Linked DNA regions of Homo sapiens. The main gene of each other region encodes a partner of the protein of the gene in region 3 in a complex. Each region holds a gene or a part of one and is shown on either strand. Other genes may lie near its edges. The genes, in order: CDK9, SART3 and CCNT1. A codon is read from its position in the direction of its gene.

Region 1 (7,504 bases), on a different chromosome or scaffold from region 3:
TCACCTCTCTGAGCCTCTTTTTTTTTTCCCCATCAGTAAAATAGGATAAATATAACATCCCTTACATGATCTCATGGCAGCAAAATAAAATATTTATACCAAGAGTATCATTTTGATTTAATCCCCTTGTGTCTTTATTTGCATGTTCCGAACAGACCTGAAGCCTTCTGAGAGAGGCCGGGGCCTTACCCATCCACACTAGCCCCCTTCCATATGAGGACTGGATCATGGGTGCTCAACAGATGCTTCTCCCTCAGTTGACCTGACATTGGGGACAGTGTGGGATGATGGCAAATGACCCTGGGCTTTGAGAGTAAAGAAACCTGGCTTTAAATCCCAGCTTCATAGCTTCCTGGCTGTGTAGCCTGGGGCAGGCCACACCAATCTGGGCCTCAATTTCCCCTTTCGTAACTTGGGTCTAATAATAACAACCTCCTAATAGGGCTGCTGGAGAGTTTCAGGGAGACAATGCAAGTCAACCCCAGGCCAGGCACTGAGTCAGTTCCTGGCTAGTGTGGGCAGAACTTCTGTGATTAATTGATTGATTGGAGACAGAGTTTCGCTCTTGTTGCCCAGGCTGGGTGCAGTCTCCAGATCTCAGCTCACCGCAACCTGCTCAGACTCTGCAATCACTCCCGGACTCAAGTGAGTCTTCTGCCTCAGGCCTCCTGAGTAGCTGGGATTACAGGCGCCACCACGTCTGGTTAATTTTCTGTATTTTTATTAGAGACGGGGTTTCATCATGTTGGCCAGGTTGGTCTCGAACTCCTGACCTCAGGTGATCCACCTGCCTCAGCCTCCCAAAGTGCAGGGATTACAGGCATGAGTCACCGCACCCGGCCAATTATTATTATTATTATTATTATTACTATTATTATTATTATTGAGATGGAGTCTCATTCTTGCCCAGACTGGAGTGCAGTGGCACAATCCTGGCTCACTGCAACCTCCACCTCCCAGGTTCCAGTGATTCTCCTGACTCAGCCTCCCAAGTAGCTGGGATTACAGATGCACGCCATCACACCCAGCTAATTTTCCTACTTTTAGTAGAGACGGGGTTTCGCCATGTTGGCCAGACTGGTCTCGAACTCCTGACCTCAGGTGATTCACCTGCCTCCTCCTCCAAAAGTGGGGATTACAGGTATGAGCCACTGCAAACAGGCAACTTTTGTGATTTTAGAGGGTTGTGGGTATCACAGGCTGTTCTCCGTCCTGTACCCCTGCTATCCAGTTGACCCACTGTCTCTTCAGATGCACCAAAAGCCAAGAGCAGCCCATTCCATGAACCCATCTTCTCCTTCCCTCCTATGCTTCCCGTCTGTCTCTGCTCAGAGGAAAACAGGGGGTCCAGGCTGGGGTCAGACAGCTGTCCAGCGCCTCCCTTTCCTGTGCTGCCCTCACCTTCTCTGTTAAATGGCAGCAGGACCAGCGGCTCTCTTGGGGCAGACATCTACCAAGGACTGGCCACATGCCCAGCCTTGCCAGCTTAGCCGACCCCTGGGAAGCAGGAAACGTTTCCAGTCAATGAGAAATCACTCATTTCTTCTTATTTCTGCCTGGGTTTTGCCAGCTTGGTGATCTGGGGCCCCGGACCTGGGCAGCCTGGGTAGCTTTCTGACAGGCTTCCGGCCTTTCCTGCCTCTCTTGCCTGCCTGCATCCCACAGTGGGGACTGAGGCCCTGAGGCCCCAAGGGGAAGTGGCGGGCGGATGCTGGGGTTCAGACGAGGGATGGCGGGGTGTAGGTGACAACTCCACCGGAACTTCTGCTAGGGCCTTTGCCCACAGGATGTGACTTAGGGAGGGCTCATGGGAAACGGCAGGCCCTGGCTTGAGATGTAGTCGGATAATGGAGGCCACACAAGCCCACCGCAGATCCCCGCCCACCGCACTACTGCTCAGACCCCAGCAATGCCGTGGCTCCACCCCTAGGCCAGATGGGCAGGGCCCCGAGATGGGGAAGTGCTGGGGTTTGTGCCAGACTGACCTGGTTCAAATACCAGTATGGTCACTGACCAGCTGTTTGACCCAGGCCAAGTGATGTCACCTCGGGATCCTGATGTGTACAATGGAGGTGACAACAGTACCCATGTGGTTGAGTGGCAACCGAGATAATTCCCATAAAGTGCCAAGTGTAGGGCTTGGACCATTTATTTTCCGTCAATAAGTTGTCATTACTAAAATTTTTATGGTCTCACTCCTTATCCTCCCCACCTCCAATTTAGGGAACAGCCTCCTGCTTCTAATAGTGTAAGCCATGAAGCCGACCCTACGTCACTAACTGCCTAAACCCCTCTCTTGCTTCACGTTACTCTCAGGAGAGGGCTCCTTCCTCCTCAGCCTGACCTTCCAGCCCCTCCCTGGTAGTGCCCTTCCCCAGAACAAGACCTCTTGTGACATCAAGGTCACCAAAGCCATTCCTGCCTCCTCCTAGGAGGCTTTGAGGCTAAGCAGTGTGGGGTGAGAGCTGGGAGCCACCCCGAGGGCTTTTTTTTGAGACGGAATCTCTCTCTGTCACCAGGCTGGAGTGCAGTGGCAAGACCTCGGCTCACTGCAACCTCCACCTCCTGGGTTCAAGCAATTCTCCTGCCTCAGCCTCCCAAGTAGCTGGGACTACAGGCGCCCAATACCACGCCTGGCTAATTTTTGTCTTTTTAGTAGAGACGGGGTTTCAACATATTGGCCAGGCTGGCTCCAACTCCTGACCTTGTGATCCGCCTGCCTTGGTCTCCCAAAGTGCTGGGATTACAGGCGTGAGCCACCGCGCCCACTCCAATGGCTTCTTGCAGGAAGAGAGGGTAACGAGAGTCTGGGGGAGTGTAGGATCAGGGGAGCACCGCCCTGAACGCAGAAAGGCTTGGGGAGACAGTAGAGAGATTTGCATGGCCACAGCTTGAGGGGTGGGGTGTGAACTGGAAAGAGCCTCCAATGTCACATTCAGGTTCTTCGGGGACAGAGAGGCCAGACTGGGGGGCTAGGTCTCAGGATCCACCCGCAGAGGGCTGGAGAGGAGGGGGCAGATTGAAGCGGGGCAGAGGAGGCAGAAAAGACGGCTTTGCTGGAGGCTGTCCTTGGGCAGAGCTGGAGGGGGAATCTGGGGGCCGCTGGAGCCAGGAAGATGCGAGGGAAGGGATGGGCGCGATGGGGGAGGGAGATGGGGGGGGTGAACGGTGAGCTCGCGCCTGCATAAGGACAGCAGGCCTCCCCACTGCTATCCTCCTGGCCCAACAGCGAATAGCGTGAGTCAAGAGAATCCCCTCACTCAGACACCCAGGTTCGGGTCCCAACTTTGTCGCCGTGTGACCTTGGGCAAATGACCTCACCTCTGAGCCTCAACGTCTTCTTCTGCAAAATGGGTTAGTGATCCTGACTATGGGGCTGTTGATTCAGGATTCGGCGGGAACGCCCAGCACTTCCTGAGTACACAAGAGTGCTGAGAAAATGGTAGCTGTTTTTTGCGATTACTGACTCGGGGCCCGACCAGCTCTGGCACGACTCAGCGGAGGTGGGAGTCCTGCGGGTCCCATCCCTGCCTCCCGGAGAGCCAGACCCCAGCGATAGAAGGCCCGGGCGTTGCTTGCTCGTCGCCGCTAGTGCCGCCGCGCCCCCTGGCGGCCGTCGGTTGCCATGTCAACGGAGGGTGGCGGGGACCGGGGGAGGCGGAGGCGGGGGCCGTTCTCTCCTCCCAGGGCCGGAGGACGCTCCCTCCGCGCCTCCCGCCTTCGCCTCTGTGGGGGCACTCCGAGCCGGGGAGGAAGGGGCTTTCCGCTGCAGCCGACATGTGGGGGTAAACTGAGGCACGCGGCAGGGCGCCCGCAGCCAGGTGCCGAGCGCGGGGCCCCACCTCCGAAGGCGGAGGAGGGGCCGCGGGCGGTGACGCGCCGAGGGCGGCCGGCGGACAGCGAGCGGGCGGGCGGTGGCGGCGGCGGCAGGTGCGGCCGCGGAGGGTGGGAGGGAGGAGGGCGGGGGCGGGCGGAGGAGGAGGGGAGGGCGAGGCCGGGCACCTCCCCCTTTATAACGCGCCCCCTCCTGGGCTCTCGGGCCGTCTCCTAGTCGGCTCTTCCCGTCTCGCCCCCTCGCCCGGCCGCCCCGGGCCCGGGTCCGGCCAGGGAGCTCCCAGGCCGCGGCTCGGGGGCTGACCCCCCGCCCGCCGCCCCGCGCAGCCCGGCGGAGGCGGCGCCGTCGGAGGAGGAGGAGCAGGGCACTGCGGCTGGCCCCGGATCGGGCGCCAGAGCGGCAGCAGCTTCGGCAGCAGCGGCGGCCCGGGCCCATGCAGCGGGACGCGCCACCCCGAGCCCCAGCTCCGGCGCCCCGGCTCCCCGCGCCCCCGATCGGGGCCGCCGCTAGTAGTGGCGGCGGCGGAGGCGGGGGCAGCGGCGGCGGCGGCGGAGGCGCCTCTGCAGCTCCGGCTCCCCCTGGCCTCTCGGGAACTACAAGTCCCAGGGGGCCTGGCGGTGGGCGGCGGGCGGAAGAGGCGGGGTCGGCGCCGCGAGGCCGGAAGTGGCCGTGGAGGCGGAAGTGGCGCGGCCGCGGAGGGGCCTGGAGTGCGGCGGCGGCGGGACCCGGAGCAGGAGCGGCGGCAGCAGCGACTGGGGGCGGCGGCGGCGCGTTGGAGGCGGCCATGGCAAAGCAGTACGACTCGGTGGAGTGCCCTTTTTGTGATGAAGTTTCCAAATACGAGAAGCTCGCCAAGATCGGCCAAGGCACCTTCGGGTAAGGCTGGGCCCCTCGGGGCCGGGAGCCCTGGGCCTGCACCCCTAGGGCCGACGTCGGGATGCCCGGGCCCCCCCCGAGTTGGTAGAGAAGTCGTCTGTCCCCGGGCTTGCCTGCTGGTCTCTAGGCCGCGCCGCACCCCGCCCCGGCCTGACGGAGCCGGCTGGTGGGGAGGAGCCTGAGGCCCGTGGTGGGGGCGGGGAGGGGCTGCAGAGAGGCGCCCGTGAGGGGAGCGGGATCTCTCCAAGGGACGCCCAAGTGAGGAGAAGGGACTGAGGGAAGGAAGCAGAGGCTCCGAACGAGACAGGCTGCCGGGTGGCGGGGTAGCCGCGTGCCCTGGGTACCTAGCCCAGCCCCGCCCGGGAATCTCTTTGCTGCTGCCCCTCCTCCTGTAGTGGGGGAGGGGCGGGCCCTGCGGAAATGGCCTGATGAGTTCTCGGGTCTCCCTTTCCGCCTGCAGGGAGGTGTTCAAGGCCAGGCACCGCAAGACCGGCCAGAAGGTGGCTCTGAAGAAGGTGCTGATGGAAAACGAGAAGGAGGGGGTGAGTACGGATCGGGCGTGCGGGCCGGCCGGCTAACTGCCCGGGACCCCGGGTCGGTTTTCCACCCTGCTGCTTCTGGGAGTCTCAGGTTGAGATTTAATTTTTTTGTAGTAGTTCAGAAATTTCCAGGGAATGTGGCTTCCACCCTAAAACTAAATGTTTCATTCTTAGGCAGTTATGGGTGAGGCCAGGAGGGGGAGTTGATGCATGCATCGTGTGCACTTTATTTCACGAAGTTAGGAAGCCTTTAAACACCTTTTTTTAGTGTTAAATTTCGCTTAATGTAAAAGAAAGATTATATATGCATGCTTTTTGAAAGGTGTCTGATACTCAATTATTTAATGTATTTAAAAGGAGCGGTCCCTTCTCCACCCCATCTTAGCTCTAGTACAACTTCCCATAAACCTTCTTTTGCGTAATGTGCATTAGCAAGGACATTTTTAAATCATCATGTTTGTTGCCAACGAAACAGCCATAGAGCTGAAATTTGAAGACTGAAACCGCCGAGCGTTTAGTGGCTAATAGCAAAGTATTGCTGTTTCAGTTTGTTGTCTCAAACCATCATCTTGAAGTGTGCATGCTACTAATATCCATTTTATAGACAAGGCTTCTGAGACAGCTGGTTTCAGAGCCCATGATCTTGCTCTGTCTCCCAACTTGGCTGTCAGTACAGACCCCAGGGCTGGGCTCTGTACTGCGCTCACTCTTGACCACTTTCCCCTCTTTCTCACCCAGTTCCCCATTACAGCCTTGCGGGAGATCAAGATCCTTCAGCTTCTAAAACACGAGAATGTGGTCAACTTGATTGAGATTTGTCGAACCAAAGGTAAGTTATTTGGTTCTTACGAGAAGATGACACTTGTAGCCTAAGGTTTTGTTTGTAAACTTGGAACTAGGCACACCTAAACTGCCTCTTCTTAACTCAGATGGACCCATGGTGACTGCTTTTTCTGGTCCTCTTTCATCGTAGCTGGTGCTTCCTCGGGGCCTGCCCTGGCCCAGAAGAGGCACTCAGAAAATATTTGACCGGTGAAGGAAGGAACAGACAGATGCTCTGGAGGGCATGGGTGCCCGTGGGTTGGAGCAGGAAGAAAGAAGCTGGTTGTGGGAAAGTGTGTTGGGTGTGGTTTTCTTGACTTTTTCTTCTTTCTATTCCTGCCTCAGCTTCCCCCTATAACCGCTGCAAGGGTAGTATATACCTGGTGTTCGACTTCTGCGAGCATGACCTTGCTGGGCTGTTGAGCAATGTTTTGGTCAAGTTCACGCTGTCTGAGATCAAGAGGGTGATGCAGATGCTGCTTAACGGCCTCTACTACATCCACAGAAACAAGGTGGGGGCCAGAGCTGGGAGGAGGACCCAGGCTTGGGCTGGTCTTGGCTCCCACTCCCGGGTGGATGTCACTAAAGGACCCACTCTTGCCCTTCCTGCAGATCCTGCATAGGGACATGAAGGCTGCTAATGTGCTTATCACTCGTGATGGGGTCCTGAAGCTGGCAGACTTTGGGCTGGCCCGGGCCTTCAGCCTGGCCAAGAACAGCCAGCCCAACCGCTACACCAACCGTGTGGTGACACTCTGGTACCGGCCCCCGGAGCTGTTGCTCGGTGAGGACTCCCGAGCGGGCCAAGGGGGGTGAGGGCCAGGCATCTACCTGGCCCCTTCCCCCCAACTGCCAGGGCTTCTTGAGCTGCCGGCCCTGGGGCATTGAGCCTCAGGAGGCCCTCGGGCTCAAGGGGCCCTCCTGGTGCGCTCTTCTTCCCAGGGGAGCGGGACTACGGCCCCCCCATTGACCTGTGGGGTGCTGGGTGCATCATGGCAGAGATGTGGACCCGCAGCCCCATCATGCAGGGCAACACGGAGCAGCACCAACTCGCCCTCATCAGTCAGCTCTGCGGCTCCATCACCCCTGAGGTACGGGGCCCCGGTCCCCACGGGGTGCAGAGATCGAGGTCCCCCGGCAGAGGAGGAGTGGGGAGTAGAATGGAAGGAGCGCTCCTCTCTGGAAGGGAGGCTGGTTTGGTGACAGGGCCTGTCTTGGGGTGGGGAGTGTGTGGGAGAAAAAAACACCTGACACAGGCTGTGCGCCAGTCTCGGTTCCATCAGCTGTTCTGTGGCCTTGGGCAGAACATCTGAGTCAGCGCTGGGTTTCTCTTCTGTGAACCAGAAATGTGACGTGTATCAGGGTTGGAGCCCATATTCCAGGTGATGTGGGTGGAAGGACCTGGCACGTGGTATGTGCCAATCCATAGCGG
Region 2 (7,152 bases), about 60 Mb from region 3:
AAAAAGAAGAAAAAGATCAGAGGCCCAGAGAAGCGCGGAGCAGATGAGGATGATGAGAAAGAGTGGGGCGATGATGAAGAAGGTAAGGAGCTCTTGAGAAATTGTGTTTTGAAACGTCTTAAAGTTAGAGAAGTTGCGAATACAGTATGAAGAACTTTCTTCCCTGAACCGTTACCAGCTTGATACCCATTACCCTTTGATCACTGTTAGGGTGTATGTCTTGCAAACAAGGGGCCCTCTTCTACATGACTAGAATGCAGCCATCAGAGCCGGGGTTAGCAATGAGCTATGGGTTCCCATTTATCCTGATAATGTCCTTTGTAGTGAAAGGATCCGGTTCAGGATGCACTATTGTGTTTAGTTGTCCTGTCTCCTGGATCTCCTTGAGTCTGGAGCACTCCTCAGCTTTTTTTTTTTACTCTGATGACCTGCAGTCTTGTAAGGGGGCAGGCCAGTTGCTGTGTTGTGCCCCTCAGCCTGGGTGTGTCTGATGCTCCCTAAGCATTGGATTCCACTCATGCATCTCGGGCAGGAATAGTGCACAAGTGCTCCTGTGGCCTGCCCATTGAGTCCCATCAGGTGGACTGTGATTCGCTTTGTTCCATCACTGGTGATGACCCTTTTGAGAATTATTTATGCTGATTCTCTACTTATCCCAGGTTTGGCTAGCAAGAGTTCCTTCACACAGGCTTCTATGTCCCTTTGACCTGTCCCCTTGTTCTTTGATCATTTCCTTACCTTCTAGCACACAATACCCAAGGGTCATCTTATACTTTCCATAACTCAGCCCTGGAATCCATCATTTCTCCAAGGTTCCTTTGAGTGATGAGTGGTATTTAGAAGGTGCTAGTTGTGCTCACTGCTGTTGGTTATTGTTCTGAGGCCTGAGTGGTCGAGGGTAGGGAGTGTGTGTGTGTGTGCGTGTGCGTGTGCATGTGTACACATATTTATGACCATATTTACTTGTGTAACTATTTGTATATACTGAAAGTCATGATTTCACACCAATACCTCCAGTTCCGGTCTAACACCACAGGGTTCCCCTTCACACTTGCAATGCCCTTCTCTCTCTTTTTAAAATTTATTTATTCATTTATTTTTGAGACAGAGTCTCGCTTTGTTGCCCAGGCTGGAGTGCAGTGGGGTGATCTTGGCTCACTTCAACCTCCGCTTCCCGGGTTCAAGTGATTCTTGTGCCTCAGCCTCTCAAGTAGCTGGGATTACAGGCATGCACCATCATACCTGGCTAATTTTTTGTATTTTTAGTAGAGATCAGGTTTCGCCATGTTGGCCAGGCTGGTCTTGAACTTGTGGCCTCAAGTGATCTGTCTGCCTCGGCCTCCCAAAGTGCTGGGATTACAGGTGTGAGCCACTGTGCCCAGCTGTGTCACGCCCTTCTCTGACCTTGAGAAACTTGGCTCCCTCTATTCTCAGCATCCTCAGTTACTCCACCCGGCCCCTGTAGGTATGTAATCAACTTCCTGTGCCTGCCTCCCCTTCTCATATGTGCCATCCCCACCCTGTTTGGTCTCCCACACCCGGGGCCAGGCACGGCCCTGCATGGACACCCTTGCTTCTTTCACTCAGGCTTCCAGATCTAGGCTGCTGGGTCCCTGTCACTGCCCCATGCCTGCCTGTCTTCTTCCTTCCATTCAGGCTCTAGCATCCCGCACCACTGCTGCAGCCCCAACCCTGCACAGACCTGCCAGGCTTGGCCCTACTTTTTTTTTTTTTTTTTTTTGAGAGGGAGTCTCGCTCTGTCGCCCAGGCTGGAGTGCAGTTGCGTGATCTCGGCTCACTGCAACCTCCGCCTCCTGGGTTCAAGTGATTCTCTTCCTTCAGCCTTCCAAGTAGCTGGGATTACACTTTGCCAGCCACCATGCCCAGCTAATTTTTGTATTTTAGTAGAGACGGGGTTTCACCATGTTAGCCAGGCTGGTCTTGAACTCCTGACCTCAAGTGATCCTCCCGCCTTGGCCTCCCAAAGTGCTGTTATTACAGGCATGAGACACTGCACCTGGCCTTGGCCCTGCTTTTAATGGTTCTGACTTAGTGGAATTTTCCAGCAGTGTTTCTTTCACCCTTGTAATTTCAGGGACGGGCAGCTCTGGGTCATATTTATTTCAGAGAGTCAGTCAAGGTAAAGAATTGTCTCTGGTGGCTGGGCGCGGTAGCTCATGCCTGTAATCCCAGCACTCTGGGAGGCTGAGGTGGGCGGATCACCTGAGGTCAGGGGTCAAGATCAACCTGGCCAACATGGTGAAAACCTGCCTCTACTAAAAATACAAAAATTAGTTGGCTGTGGTGGCGGGTGCCTGTTTTCCCAGCTACTCGGGAGGCTGAGACAGGAGAATTACTTGAGCCCGGGAGGCAGAGGTTGCAATGAGTAGAGATCATGCCGTTGCACTCCAGCCTGGGAGAGAGAGCAAGACACTGTCTCAAAAACAAAACAAAACAAAAAAAAGAATTGTCTCTGGACTTGAAAGGACTCTGTATACTTTCTTAATACAGATGTGTGAGCCAGAGAGAACTGGGAATGGAGTCATCCATCGTTGAGTTGACCTTGCTTGCACACCTTGTTTGGGCTTTCCTAAATGACTGAGGATGGCTCATTGCTCCACTGGCCTCCCAGTTTGGCAGAATAAGGCAAATGTGATGTGTGACCGCAGTGGTGTGTGATCAGGGCATGGCGTGTGATCAGGACTGTGGGAGATGGCATTGTTAATACTGGTGGAGGCCAAAGAAGGCACTAGTGGGTCAACTTCGTACCAGGAAGACTGTGGGGGAAGAGATGCGGCATCCAGGGGGAAGACCGAGTGACTGTGGCAGCGAGAAGGGAAGGTCTGAGCTACACAGGGAGGAGCCAATGTTAGTACAGCCTGAAGGCACAGCACAGCCTGGCATTTTCTGTGAGCAGCAGATAATTGGGTTTGAACTCAGATGCATTAGAGAGGGGTGGGGCAGTGGTCGAGGAGGCTGGAGTGGTAGGTGGGCCAGTCAGCTGGACCCAGCCCAGGGACACTCTTGAATACAGTAGCAGTGTGCAGGGCTTACGTTGCATTGGAAAGGCAGCGGGTGAACTGATGGGGAGGTCTGTTTGCCGGAGGCTGATGTCTGTTGAGCTTCAGTACTGGCCCTCTGGAGGCAGTGGTGAGGACAGACTGCAGTAGAAGATTGTGGTTAAGCTCTCTTAAGGACACAAGGCCATATTGAAAGTGTTTTAGAAACCACAGATCCTTTGTAGTGCTTTCCAAAATGTGCTCCCTGGGGCACGGGTATCAGTCACTAGGGTGCTTTTCCAGTGCAGATTCTCATGTCCTATCCCAACCCTGCTGATCTGGGCTTTGTAGGAGAGGGGCCCTGGAATTTGCCTTCTGAACTTTGAGATCCACTGACCTTTTGTATAATTAAGAGTGGACAATGGGGATTTATGTTATTACTTCCACTTGATTGAGCCCACTTACCCGAGTGTAATTGGGGCACAGAAAGTCGTGGGACAGGTCAGGCGGATCACAAAAGACTTCTCGGGGTGGTGCTTGCCCCTCCGAGTCTGGTGAGGGAGTAAGTGTCACATGCAGCTGTCACAGCACTTTCACTTCACACCTCTGTTCAAGCTCCCTGAAGAGAAGTAACAGTTAACCATGGCTACTTTTCTTTTGAAAACCTGTAGAGCAGCCTTCCAAACGCAGAAGGGTCGAGAACAGCATCCCTGCAGCTGGAGAAACACAAAATGTAGAAGTAGCAGCAGGGCCCGCTGGGAAATGTGCTGCCGTAGATGTGGAGCCCCCTTCGAAGCAGAAGGAGAAGGCAGCCTCCCTGAAGAGGGACATGCCCAAGGTGCTGCACGACAGCAGCAAGGACAGCATCACCGTCTTTGTCAGCAACCTGCCCTACAGCATGCAGGAGCCGGACACGAAGCTCAGGCCACTCTTCGAGGCCTGTGGGGAGGTGGTCCAGATCCGACCCATCTTCAGCAACCGTGGGGATTTCCGAGGTTACTGCTACGTGGAGTTTAAAGAAGAGAAATCAGCCCTTCAGGCACTGGAGATGGACCGGAAAAGTGTAGAAGGGAGGCCAATGTTTGTTTCCCCCTGTGTGGATAAGAGCAAAAACCCCGATTTTAAGGTAGGTTTATGGAAAAAAAGAATGCCTTTCATCTGTGGTTGCTTTAGACAGGCACTTTCTTCCTGCAGCAGTGATATTTAGGATAGACATGGAAGTTTTACGCTCTGTTTGGATCTAAACTTCCTTGTGAGCCAAGGTCCATCCTGAGCCGGTTGACTGAGGTCTGACTCATGGCATGGCTCCTTCTTGCTGGGTGCTTAGCAATGACAAGGGACTGTGCTGAATGCTTTATGTGTGTCAGCTCATTGACTCCTCATGAGACTCTGTGAATGGTTACTTTTATTCTTGCCGTTTTACAGAGGAAGACATGGAGGCCTGGAGAGGTTAAGTGACTCGCTCCGGTGGCCCCATTAACAAGTTTCAGAGCATGGCTTGGCTCTAGTCTGCCTGGCTGGGCTGCTCATGGGGACAAGGCTGGTGTCAGAGGAGTCAGGTGAGCTGGGTCATGCCTCGAATCATGGTTTTTCTCTGTCTTCCTTCTTCCTATAGGTGTTCAGGTACAGCACTTCCCTAGAGAAACACAAGCTGTTCATCTCAGGCCTGCCTTTCTCCTGTACTAAAGAGGAACTAGAAGAAATCTGTAAGGCTCATGGCACCGTGAAGGACCTCAGGCTGGTCACCAACCGGGCTGGCAAACCAAAGGTCAGAGTCAGAGCAGATTGTGCCTTGTCTTCAAGGCTTGGGCAAACTTCGTTTCTGTATCGGTTCAAAGATGATTTAACCTCTAGAATGGGTTCCTAGTTTGTCTGCTGAGAAACAAAAGTTAATTTCACAGAAAGATCTGCACTTAGCTCTACTTATATTTGGAGTCAGATTAACCTGTTTGTAGTTAATTGTACTAAAAAGAATAAGACACTTGGAAATAGAGGATCATGAATTCACCACACTATGGCCCCTGGCTGTGGGGCTTGGGGGAAGCCCTGTGACCAGCAGCATACGGGCTTTGGGGTGGGCGCCCTCCTGCAGCCTTCTCCCTCTGTCCCAGGCCTCTCTTTCTCTGGGGCCTCCAACCAGGCCCCTTGAGTCCCTCCATTGCAGTGCCTCTTCTCCTGTCTTTCCTTCTTGCCCCCTCAGTCTCCTGCTAAGTCCTTTTGTGCCCCATTTTGAGTAGTAAGTGGTTTCATTACTGTCTACCCACTGCCCACTCTCCCTCCCCTTTATCCAGGTTAATGGAGAGAAAAAGAGGATGAAATGAGGGAGCGGGTGAAGGCACAGAAACACGAGGGCTCACCTGGGCACCTGGGCTGCTGGCCCTGTGTCCCATCCACCTCTTGGTTTATTTGCTGGATTTATACTGGTCCATCTGTCTTTTTCCTTCTTTCTTTCTACTTCTGCAGCACGTACAAGGTGTGCTGAACTTGGAAGGGTTATCTGAAGTTACAGTGCATAGCAGCACTCGGGAAGGAGAGTAGGGTGGGGAAATAAGCCTGTAGACAGAGGATGCGGTGGTGGGGAAGGTAACCTGTTGGTGGGTCGTTTGCTGTGGCCTGGTCTGCTGGTCTCCGGGAGGAAGCCCAGTGCCTGCCCTGCAGGAGGAGGTTGCGTCCCTAGTCTGCGGGATCTGACTTGGTTCTGGATCTTGCCTCTTCCAGGGCCTGGCCTACGTGGAGTATGAAAATGAATCCCAGGCGTCGCAGGCTGTGATGAAGATGGACGGCATGACTATCAAAGAGAACATCATCAAAGTGGCAATCAGCAACCCTCCTCAGAGGAAAGTTCCAGAGAAGCCGGAGACCAGGAAGGCACCAGGTGGCCCCATGCTTTTGCCGCAGACATACGGAGCGTAAGTGCTTGCATGGTAGACTAGTGCAAACTTCGTCCTGGCTGGCACCAGTTCATGGATCACGGGGGGATTAACCCGGGATGAATTAGCTTCCTGTTAGGACAGAAAAGCCAAGATGTGCTGTTCCTTGTGGTAATCACTGTGGTTCCACTGGAGCAAGGCGTCCAGAGCAGGATGCAAGCCTAGGCAGTGACCTCTGCCTGGTACTGGCCAATTTACACTTGTCATTTATTTCAGACAGAAATAAGGCAGTGATTATTTTAAAGTCCCCTTTGCCAGTTGGATCTGTGTGTTTACAAAGAAATCTCATACCCATGTGTGTGCCAGTCTACGGCCCTAGCTATGATCCACATAAGCTGTGCTGTTCGCTGGTTTGGGATGAGGAGGAGATAGCAGAATTGCCAGGTGACTGGTGAGGTCTGAGAGGTGATAGTCACACTGATCCCCTCTGAGTGTGACTGGTGCTCAGGGTTGATCTTTGCCAAAACTGAACAAGGCCAAGTCTGTTGAAGCAGTTTTTACTTCATAAACAGAATTAAGGAGGCAGGGATTATCTTATCCTTTTTTTTTTTCACCTTTTAACTTCTGGTTATATTAAAACTGTCTTGGCTTATTTTCACAAATAAATGAGGGGCCACGAATTGTTGCTTCAAAAGGTCCATTCAGTGTTTGCTCTTTTAGGAGGGGGAAGGGAAGGACGCAGCTGTCTCTACTGCCTCGTGCCCTGCAGCGCCCAAGTGCTGCAGCTCCTCAGGCTGAGAACGGCCCTGCCGCGGCTCCTGCAGTTGCCGCCCCAGCAGCCACCGAGGCACCCAAGATGTCCAATGCCGATTTTGCCAAGCTGTTTCTGAGAAAGTGAACGGGACGCTGGGAGACAGGAAATGCCTTACTTCACTCTGGCCCGGCGGACCTCCCACCACCCAGCAGTGCACTGGGGATGGACAGGCCTGGTGTGCTGCGTGCTCGCAACCACAGATGGCTCCTCGGCTTTAGACAGAAAGGGGAAGGGGTTCTAAGTCAAGAGCCTTTCAGTGCTCCCTCATATTGAGGGCAGTGGCAGAAAAGTGACCACTCTGCAGGCTGGGCCCAGGATGTGGTGTCCTGAGATAGTTTTGTATCTTAAAGACTGAGGCACAGAAGCGAAACGAGAACACACTGTTTTTGAGACACAGTTGTCCAAATGTTTCTGGCCAGCTCCGGCCCCTTTTTGTATGACACTTCTCTTCCACCCTGCACAGCACATG
Region 3 (7,152 bases):
CCCTGTTGTCCATGGTGGAATGCAGTGATTTGATTATGGCTCATTGCAGCCTTAACCTTCTGGGCTCAAGCAGTCCTCCTGCCGTAGCCTCCCAAGTAACTGGGACCACAGGCTTGCCAACATATCTGGTAATTTTTAAAATTTTTTTTGTGAAGATGGGGTCTCCCTGTGTTGTCCAGCCTGGTCTCAAACTCCAGGGTTCAAGGGATCCTTCCGCCTCCGCCTTCTAAAATGTTGGGATTACAGTCATGAGCCGCCATTCCTGGCATTAATTTTGAAGTAGTTTATAAAATATGGTCACAGCAAAAGAAGTAAATGTAAGTTACTTAGATTTTCCAAAAGCCTTTGATAAAATTCCAGTCAGCAGTTGGAGGGGAAAGCACATTATGTAATAATAACTGGGAAAATGACTTTTAAGAACATGAAAAATAGGCTATGCATGGTGGCTCATTCTTATGTATAATCACAGCACCTTGGGAGGTTCAGGTGGGAGGACTGATTGAGCCCAGGAGTTGGAGACCAGCCTGGGCAACACGGTGAGACCCCGTTTCTACAAAAAAAAAAAAAAAGGTAAAAAAAATTTTACAAAGAACAGGAAGAATAAAATTATACTAATAAAGAAATTTTATTTTTTTGTACAGAATTATAAATAGTGATCTTTTCAGTGTAGCTATTTGAAATGGTCCTATTTAACATTATTATAAATGACTTGGAATTGAATGCATAGTGATATCCCAGTTCTAGGAAGGACTGTATTTACTTAATAAAACGCCAAGGTAATAGGGATAAACTTGATGAGTACTTCATATGGATTGATTTTTTTTTTTTTGAGATGGAGTTTCGCTCTTGTTGCCCAGGATGGAGTGCAATGGCACGATCTTGGCCCTTTGCAACCTCCGCCTCGCAGATTCAAGCAATCCTCTTTCCTCAGCCTCCCAAGTAGCTGGGATTACATGCATGTGCCACCACACCTGGCTAATTTTTGTATTTTTAGTAGAGACGAGGTTTCACCACGTTGGCCAGGCTGGTTTTGAACTCCTGACCTCAGGTGATCTGCCCGCCTCAGCCTCCCAAAGTGTTGGGATTACAGGTGTGAGCCACTGCACCGGCTGTATACTTCAAATGGATTTGTGAGTCAAGTATTTCCCTGCTTTTTTTTTTTTTTTTTTTTTTTATTTTTTTTTTTTTTTAAGGAAAAGATTATCCTGCTGGGCACGGTGGCTTAAGCCTATAATCCCACAACTTTAGGAGGCTGAGGCGGGCGGATCACCTGAGGTCGGGAGTTTGAGACCAACATGGAGAAACCCCATCTCTACTAATACAAAAATTAGCCAGGCGTGGAGTTTCATGCCTGTAATCCCAGCTACTCAGGAGGCTGAGGCAATCACTTGAACTGGGGAGGCCGAGGTTGTGGTGAGCCGAGATCGCTATTGCACTTCAGCCTAGGCAACAAGAGCGAAACTCCATCTCAAAAAGAAAAAGATTATGCTTTTGAGGATGCTTATTTCGTATCCTTAGAATGGTGGGTTTTCAGATTTATTATTACTTTTTTAATGCTGTAGAAAGAGAGTTTATGAAGCTAGACATAGCTCCTGAAATGTAAGAAACTGGCAGAAACAGTATTGGGAGTAACTGCACAGGAAACTTTTTGGATTTGTGAATTAAGATTTTTGTGGGCCAGGTGCCGTGGCTCAACGCCTGTAATCCCAGCACTTTGGGAGGCCAAGATGGGCGGATCACGAGGTCAGCAGATCAAGACCATCCTGGCTAACATGGTGAAACCCCGTCTCTACTAAAAATACAAAAAAAATTAGCCGGGCGTGGCGGTGGGCGCCTGTAGTCCCAGCTACTCGGGAGGCTGAGACAGGAGAATGGCATGAACCCAGGAGGTGGAGCTTGCAGTGAGCCGAGATCGTGCCACTGCACTCCAGCCTGGGCGACAGAATGAGACTCCGTCTCAAAACAAAAAGAAAAAGATTTTTGCTGATGATCCACCCAGGTTGGCTTTCTTCTGCCCTTAGCCCCTGTACCTCTAGTCATGCCCTGGAGCTTTGCTCTGGCTCTGATTGCAAGGAGTATATCCTTCTTATTAAAAGAGAGAGAAGCCTGTTAGCATTTAACGAGGCTATCTGATAGCACCAGAATAGAAGGTAGTGAGTAGTTAAAAAGTGAAATTTGAAGAGGAAATTCCTAGCCATTTTGCCAGTTCTGAAGGTTTTCTATAATTCTTCCCTTTTATTATGATAAAGACTTGAAATTTGGGGTGAAGTGAATCTCAAATCAAAAAAAGAAACTCTCAAATCAGTTTGTCCACTCTTCATGTATAGGTTAATATATATTTTCCCCTCCTTTTAACTTTTATTTATTTATATATTTATTTATTTATTTTTGAGATGGAGTCTCACTCTGTCACCCAGGCTGGAGTGCAATGGCGCCATCTGAGCTCACTGCAACCTCCACCTCCCAGGTTCAAGCGATTCTCCTGTCTCAACCTCCCAAGTAGCTGGGACTACAGGCACCCGCCACCACACCCAGCTAATTTTTGTATTTTTAGTATAGACAGGGTTTCACTATGTTGGCCAGGCTTGGCTTCAACTGTTGACCTTATGATCTGCCCGCCTCATCCTTCCAGAGTGCTGGGATTACAGGTGTGAGCCACCGCGTCCAGCCTTATCTTTTAAGTTATATCTTTTTTTATTTTTTTGAGACCTGGAATCTCTCTCTTTCCCCCAGGCTGGAGTGCAGTGGCTGCGCGATCTCAGCTCACTGCAACCTCCGCCTCCTGGGTTCCAGCAATTCTCCTGTCTCAGCCTCCCGAGTAGCTGGGATTACAGGCGCCTGCCACCACACCCAGCTGATTTTTGTATTTTTAGTAGAGACGGGGTTTCACCATCTTGGCCAGCCTGGTCTTGAATTCCTGACCTCACGATCCACCCGCCTTGGCCTACCAAGTGCTGGAATTATAGCCATGAGCCACTGTGCCAGGCCATATCTTTTTATTTCTTATCTGTTAAGCTTAACAAGGACAGAGATTCCCTTTTCTGTATATTCTCTAAAGCAGTTTCAGTAAACTTATTGAATGAATGGATGATCTGGTAGTTATCCAATATAGAGATATTCTTTCAAACATTTTTATATATATTTATTTTTTAGAGACGGGAGATCTCGCTCTGTTGCCCAGGCTGGTCTCAAACTCCTGGCCTCAAGCTGTCTTCCCACCTCAGTCTCCCAAAGTGCTGGGATTGCAGGCATGGGCCACTGCACCTGGCTAGTATAGGGATATTCTTTTGGATGTCATGACCTTTTTCAAAATCCACTGATTAATTTGAAGTTGTTGATCCTTTTTAGAGGATTGATTTTAGGCACATTTTGGAATCAACAGATTCCAGATTTAATATCACCTTTTAACATACTAATTCTAAGTTTAGCTGTGATGAATCCAAATTTAAATGTGAGAGGACTTAATACATTAAATGTGGCCTAATAATCAATGTGGCATTGATATGTTATATATCCTGTCAAGTCCTCAGGCATTTTTGTATGTGTGTGTGTGTTTTTCTTATTACAAAGGTATTAGAGGCTGGGCGTGTTGACTCAGGCCTGTAATCCTAGCACTTTGGGAGGCCGAGTTGGGTGGATCATTTGAGGTCAGGAGTTCGAAAACATCCTGGCCAACATGGTGAAACCCCGTCTCTATTAAAAACACAAAAATCAGCCGGGCATGGTGGCGTGCACCTGTAGTCCCAGCTACTCACTTGGGAGGCTGAGGCAGAATTGCTTGAACCCGGGAGGTGGAGGTTGCAGTGAGCTGAGATCGTGCCGTTGCACTCCAGCTTGGGTGACAGAGTGAGACTCCATCTCAAAAAAAAAAAAATGAAGAAACCCAAAGATATTATAATAAATTCCCATGGTAAAAATTAAGACAGTACAGAAATGTATGTGGAAAGTGAAAACTACTCTGTAATCCCACCCAGAGATAACCATTGATAAATGTTTGGTTTATAGTGACCCAGACATTTTTCTGTGCACATAAACTAGCATTGAGGTATTTTTATTTAAAAAATCATATCTTGCTATGCTACTGTTGCACAGCTTGCCTTTATCATGTAACAGTATGTATTGGACATCTTTCCATACTTCCCTTTATTATTTTTTGGATTTCTTATTATTTTAATTTGCCACATGGTATTTGTGTAGTTACTGTAGTTTATTTAACCAGCTTTTTATTGATAGCTATTTGGGTTGTTGTTCTAGTTTATTATATTGTACATTATGTTTCATGGGATAGTCTTGTACATATATAGTGCACTTATATAAGCATTTTAATACAAGTTCCTATAGGTGGAATTGCTGTGCCCAGAGTATACAATGTATAAAAATTTTTGTAGTGTCAGTTTGCCCTACTGAAAGATTATACATTGTTTCCAGCACTGTAGGTGAGGGTCCTTTTCTTTCCACCCTAACAAACAACAAATATTAATTACCTCAAGAAACATTTATCTAGTTCTTTGTTTTTGAAACGGAGTCCCCTCTGTTGCCCAGGAGTGCAGTGGTGCCATAATTTAGTTTAGTTTTATTTTGGTTTTATTAGTTTATGCCATACTTTTAGTTTCTAATAGGCTTAAAACCTTAGTCTTTGACTTGTCCTTTTCCCCTTTGTTCAGTTAGTTATAGTCCCCCCCAACCCCAAGATAGGTTTTTACTCTGTCACCTAGGCTAGGCTGGAGTGCAGTGGTACAATCATAGCTCACTGCAGCCTCCATGTCCTGGGCTCAAGTGATCCTTCCACCTTACCAAGACTACAGTGCCACCACGCCCAGTGAATTTTCCTTTTGATTTTTTGTAGAGATGAGGTCTTGCTATGTTGCTCAGGCTTGAGCTCAAGGGATCCTCCTGCCTTGGCCTCCCAAAGTGCTAGGATTATAGGCAAGAGTCTGCACCCAGCCTATAAAGTCTTGCTAATTTTATAATGTTACCATTTTTTCCCTCTCCTTATAAATATGTACTTTTTAAATTATCAAAAAATTGGAAGAGGACGGACAGGAAATAAAGAGATAATCCTGTTAACATTTTAGAGTATATCCCATTAGAATTTTTTCTTTGTATGCAAGTACATGTACATATATTTAGTGCAGCCCTATTAGTTTTACAAAGTGATGCCTGTGTTTCTTTTTTCCTTTATTTCTACTGCTAGTGTCTAAACTTTTTTTTTTTTCTTTTTTTGAGACAGAGTCTCGCTCTGTGGCCCAGGTTGGAGTGCAATGGCGTGATCTTGGCTCACTGCAACCCCCACCTCCTGGGTTCAAGCGATTCTCCTGCCTCAGCCTCCCAAGTAGCTGGGACCAAAGGCGTGTGCCACCACTCCTGGCTAATTTTTGTATTTTTAGTAGATATGGAGTTTTACCACGTTGTCCAGGCTGTTCTTGAACTCCTGACCTCAGGTGATCTGCCTGCCTTGGCCTCCCAAAGTGCTGGGATTACAGGCGTGAGCCACCACGCCCGGCCTACTCTAAACTTTTTAAAATTCTTTTTTCTATATTTTAAAATAATTTTTAAAAAACAGAGACAGGGTCTCATTGTGTTACGCAGGCTGATCTTGAACTTTGGGCTCAAGTGATTCTCCTGCTTTGGCCTCCCAAAGTGCTCTAAACTTTATGTCCTAATGCCTAAATTATTATTTAAGTTAACTTTTATTTTATTTTTTGAGACAGTATGGCTCTGTTGCCCAGGCTGGAGTACAGTGGCATGATCTTGGCTCACTTCAACCCCTGCCTTCTGGGTTCAGGCAATTCTCCCGAGTAGGTGGGACTACCCTACTACAAGACTCCTGAGTGGTGGTGTGTGCCACCACGCCCGGCTAATTTTTGTGTTTTTAGTAGAGACGGGGTTTCACCATGTTGGCCGGGCTGGTCTTGAATTCCTGACTTCAAGTGATCCGCTACCTCGGCCTCCCAAAGTGCTGGGATTACAGGCGTGAGCCACAACACCCAGCCTGAATTAACTTTTAATGTATCCCATCCTTTTCTCCTAGTTTTACCTACCATCAGATTACTCCTTCTAAATATTACTTTGTTTTAAAAATTTATTTTTATTAATTATCATGGGTACATAATAGTTATATACATTTATCATAAACATTTCTTAAACGATATTTTTCAAAATCTTTAGTGTCACTCTTGTTAAGAATCTTGGCTGGGTGAGGTGACTCACACCTGTAATCCTAGGACTTTGGGAGGCAGAGACAGAATTACTTGAGCCCAGGAGTTTGAGCAGCCTGGACAATGTAGGGAGACCCCATCTCTATTAAAAATAAAAATAAATTAACTGGGTGTGGTGGCGTGTGCCTGTGATCCCAGCTACTTCGAAGGCTGAGATGGGAATATCTCCTGAGCCCAGGAGGTTGAGTGGAACTGTGATTTTGACGCCACTGCACTGCAGCTGGGTGACAGAGTGAGATGCTGTCTCAAAAAAAAAAAAAAAAGAAAGAAAAAAAATCTAGTGTTCCACATCCGATTATCTAATGTATTTAACTACTCAGTTTAGTATTGAAAATGTGCTTTACGCCTAGATCACCATACCTTTGTTCATATCCATTTTTCTCTGATCCTGTTTTGTTTATCCTAAAGTCTGAGGAATATATATGTAGTATGCTTCATATTCATCTGAAACAAATGTGAAGGAAAAGAATCACTGTGTTTACTTAAAACAGTTTTTTCCGTATGTGTATGGAGATGGAGTCTCTCTCACTATGTTGCCCAGGCTGGTCTCGGACTCCTGGGCTCAAGTGATCCCCCGCCTCTGCTTCCCAAAGTGCTGAGATTATAGGCTTGAACCACTGTGTCTGGCCTAAAAAAATTTTGTTTTAAATTATTTTTGTCTCCTATGGTCTTGTCTGAAATCAATACTATGAGTTGAATTTGTGGAGAAAAACTTACTCTAGAAAAGTATAGCATAGGTGACATCAGGGTTACAAATAAGTATTAGAATATCAGTTCTAGTCAGTAAAATGAAATATATATTTAAATTCTGTAAAATTATTTATGTATTTCTTTGACTCCTGGTGAAATACAGCTCTTAGCATTACTATCTTTGAGTCACTGAAATGTTCTTAATATTCAAGAAAAGTTCTATTTCCTGAAGTTTCCAAGATCA

The links.
Region 1: the proteins of CCNT1 (region 3) and CDK9 are in contact, whole or in part, in a crystal structure (PDB 3BLH), measured with the Homo sapiens proteins. Residues at the interface, in NP_001231.2 of Homo sapiens: Arg5, Lys6, Arg11, Trp12, Arg26, Ile72, Gln73, Phe78, Phe89, Leu90, Lys93, Val94, Pro98, Lys99, Lys100, Leu101, Val134, Glu137, Ile139, Leu141, Gln142, Thr143, Gly145, Phe146, Glu147, Leu148, Thr149; in NP_001252.1 of Homo sapiens: Val8 (codon at 4,641), Glu9 (codon at 4,644), Cys10 (codon at 4,647), Pro11 (codon at 4,650), Phe12 (codon at 4,653), Cys13 (codon at 4,656), Lys56 (codon at 5,245), Glu57 (codon at 5,248), Gly58 (codon at 5,251), Phe59 (codon at 5,989), Ile61 (codon at 5,995), Leu64 (codon at 6,004), Ile67 (codon at 6,013), Lys68 (codon at 6,016), Gln71 (codon at 6,025), Leu72 (codon at 6,028), Leu81 (codon at 6,055), Ile82 (codon at 6,058), Glu83 (codon at 6,061), Ile84 (codon at 6,064), Arg86 (codon at 6,070), Ile99 (codon at 6,447).
Region 2: CCNT1 (region 3) and SART3 share a complex: the UniProt entries of both Homo sapiens proteins name them as parts of the 7SK snRNP complex.

Annotation. Positions count from the first base shown.
Region 1 is NC_000009.12:127,781,530-127,789,033, forward strand, and holds the start of CDK9 (cyclin-dependent kinase 9), read left to right. Parts: upstream 1-4,504; 5' UTR 4,505-4,619; coding exon 4,620-4,711; intron 4,712-5,171; coding exon 5,172-5,253; intron 5,254-5,988; coding exon 5,989-6,079; intron 6,080-6,417; coding exon 6,418-6,584; intron 6,585-6,684; coding exon 6,685-6,856; intron 6,857-7,014; coding exon 7,015-7,163; intron 7,164-7,504. UniProt on the Homo sapiens protein: Protein kinase involved in the regulation of transcription.
Region 2 is NC_000012.12:108,523,072-108,530,223, reverse strand, and holds part of SART3 (spliceosome associated factor 3, U4/U6 recycling protein), read left to right. Parts: coding exon 1-82; intron 83-3,670; coding exon 3,671-4,125; intron 4,126-4,614; coding exon 4,615-4,767; intron 4,768-5,717; coding exon 5,718-5,908; intron 5,909-6,589; coding exon 6,590-6,767; 3' UTR 6,768-7,152. UniProt on the Homo sapiens protein: U6 snRNP-binding protein that functions as a recycling factor of the splicing machinery. Promotes the initial reassembly of U4 and U6 snRNPs following their ejection from the spliceosome during its maturation.
Region 3 is NC_000012.12:48,706,618-48,713,769, reverse strand, and holds part of CCNT1 (cyclin-T1), read left to right. Parts: intron 1-1,193; exon of another isoform or gene 1,194-1,519; coding exon of another isoform or gene 1,520-1,522; intron 1,523-7,152. UniProt on the Homo sapiens protein: Regulatory subunit of the cyclin-dependent kinase pair (CDK9/cyclin-T1) complex, also called positive transcription elongation factor B (P-TEFb), which facilitates the transition from abortive to productive elongation by phosphorylating the CTD (C-terminal domain) of the large subunit of RNA polymerase II (RNA Pol II).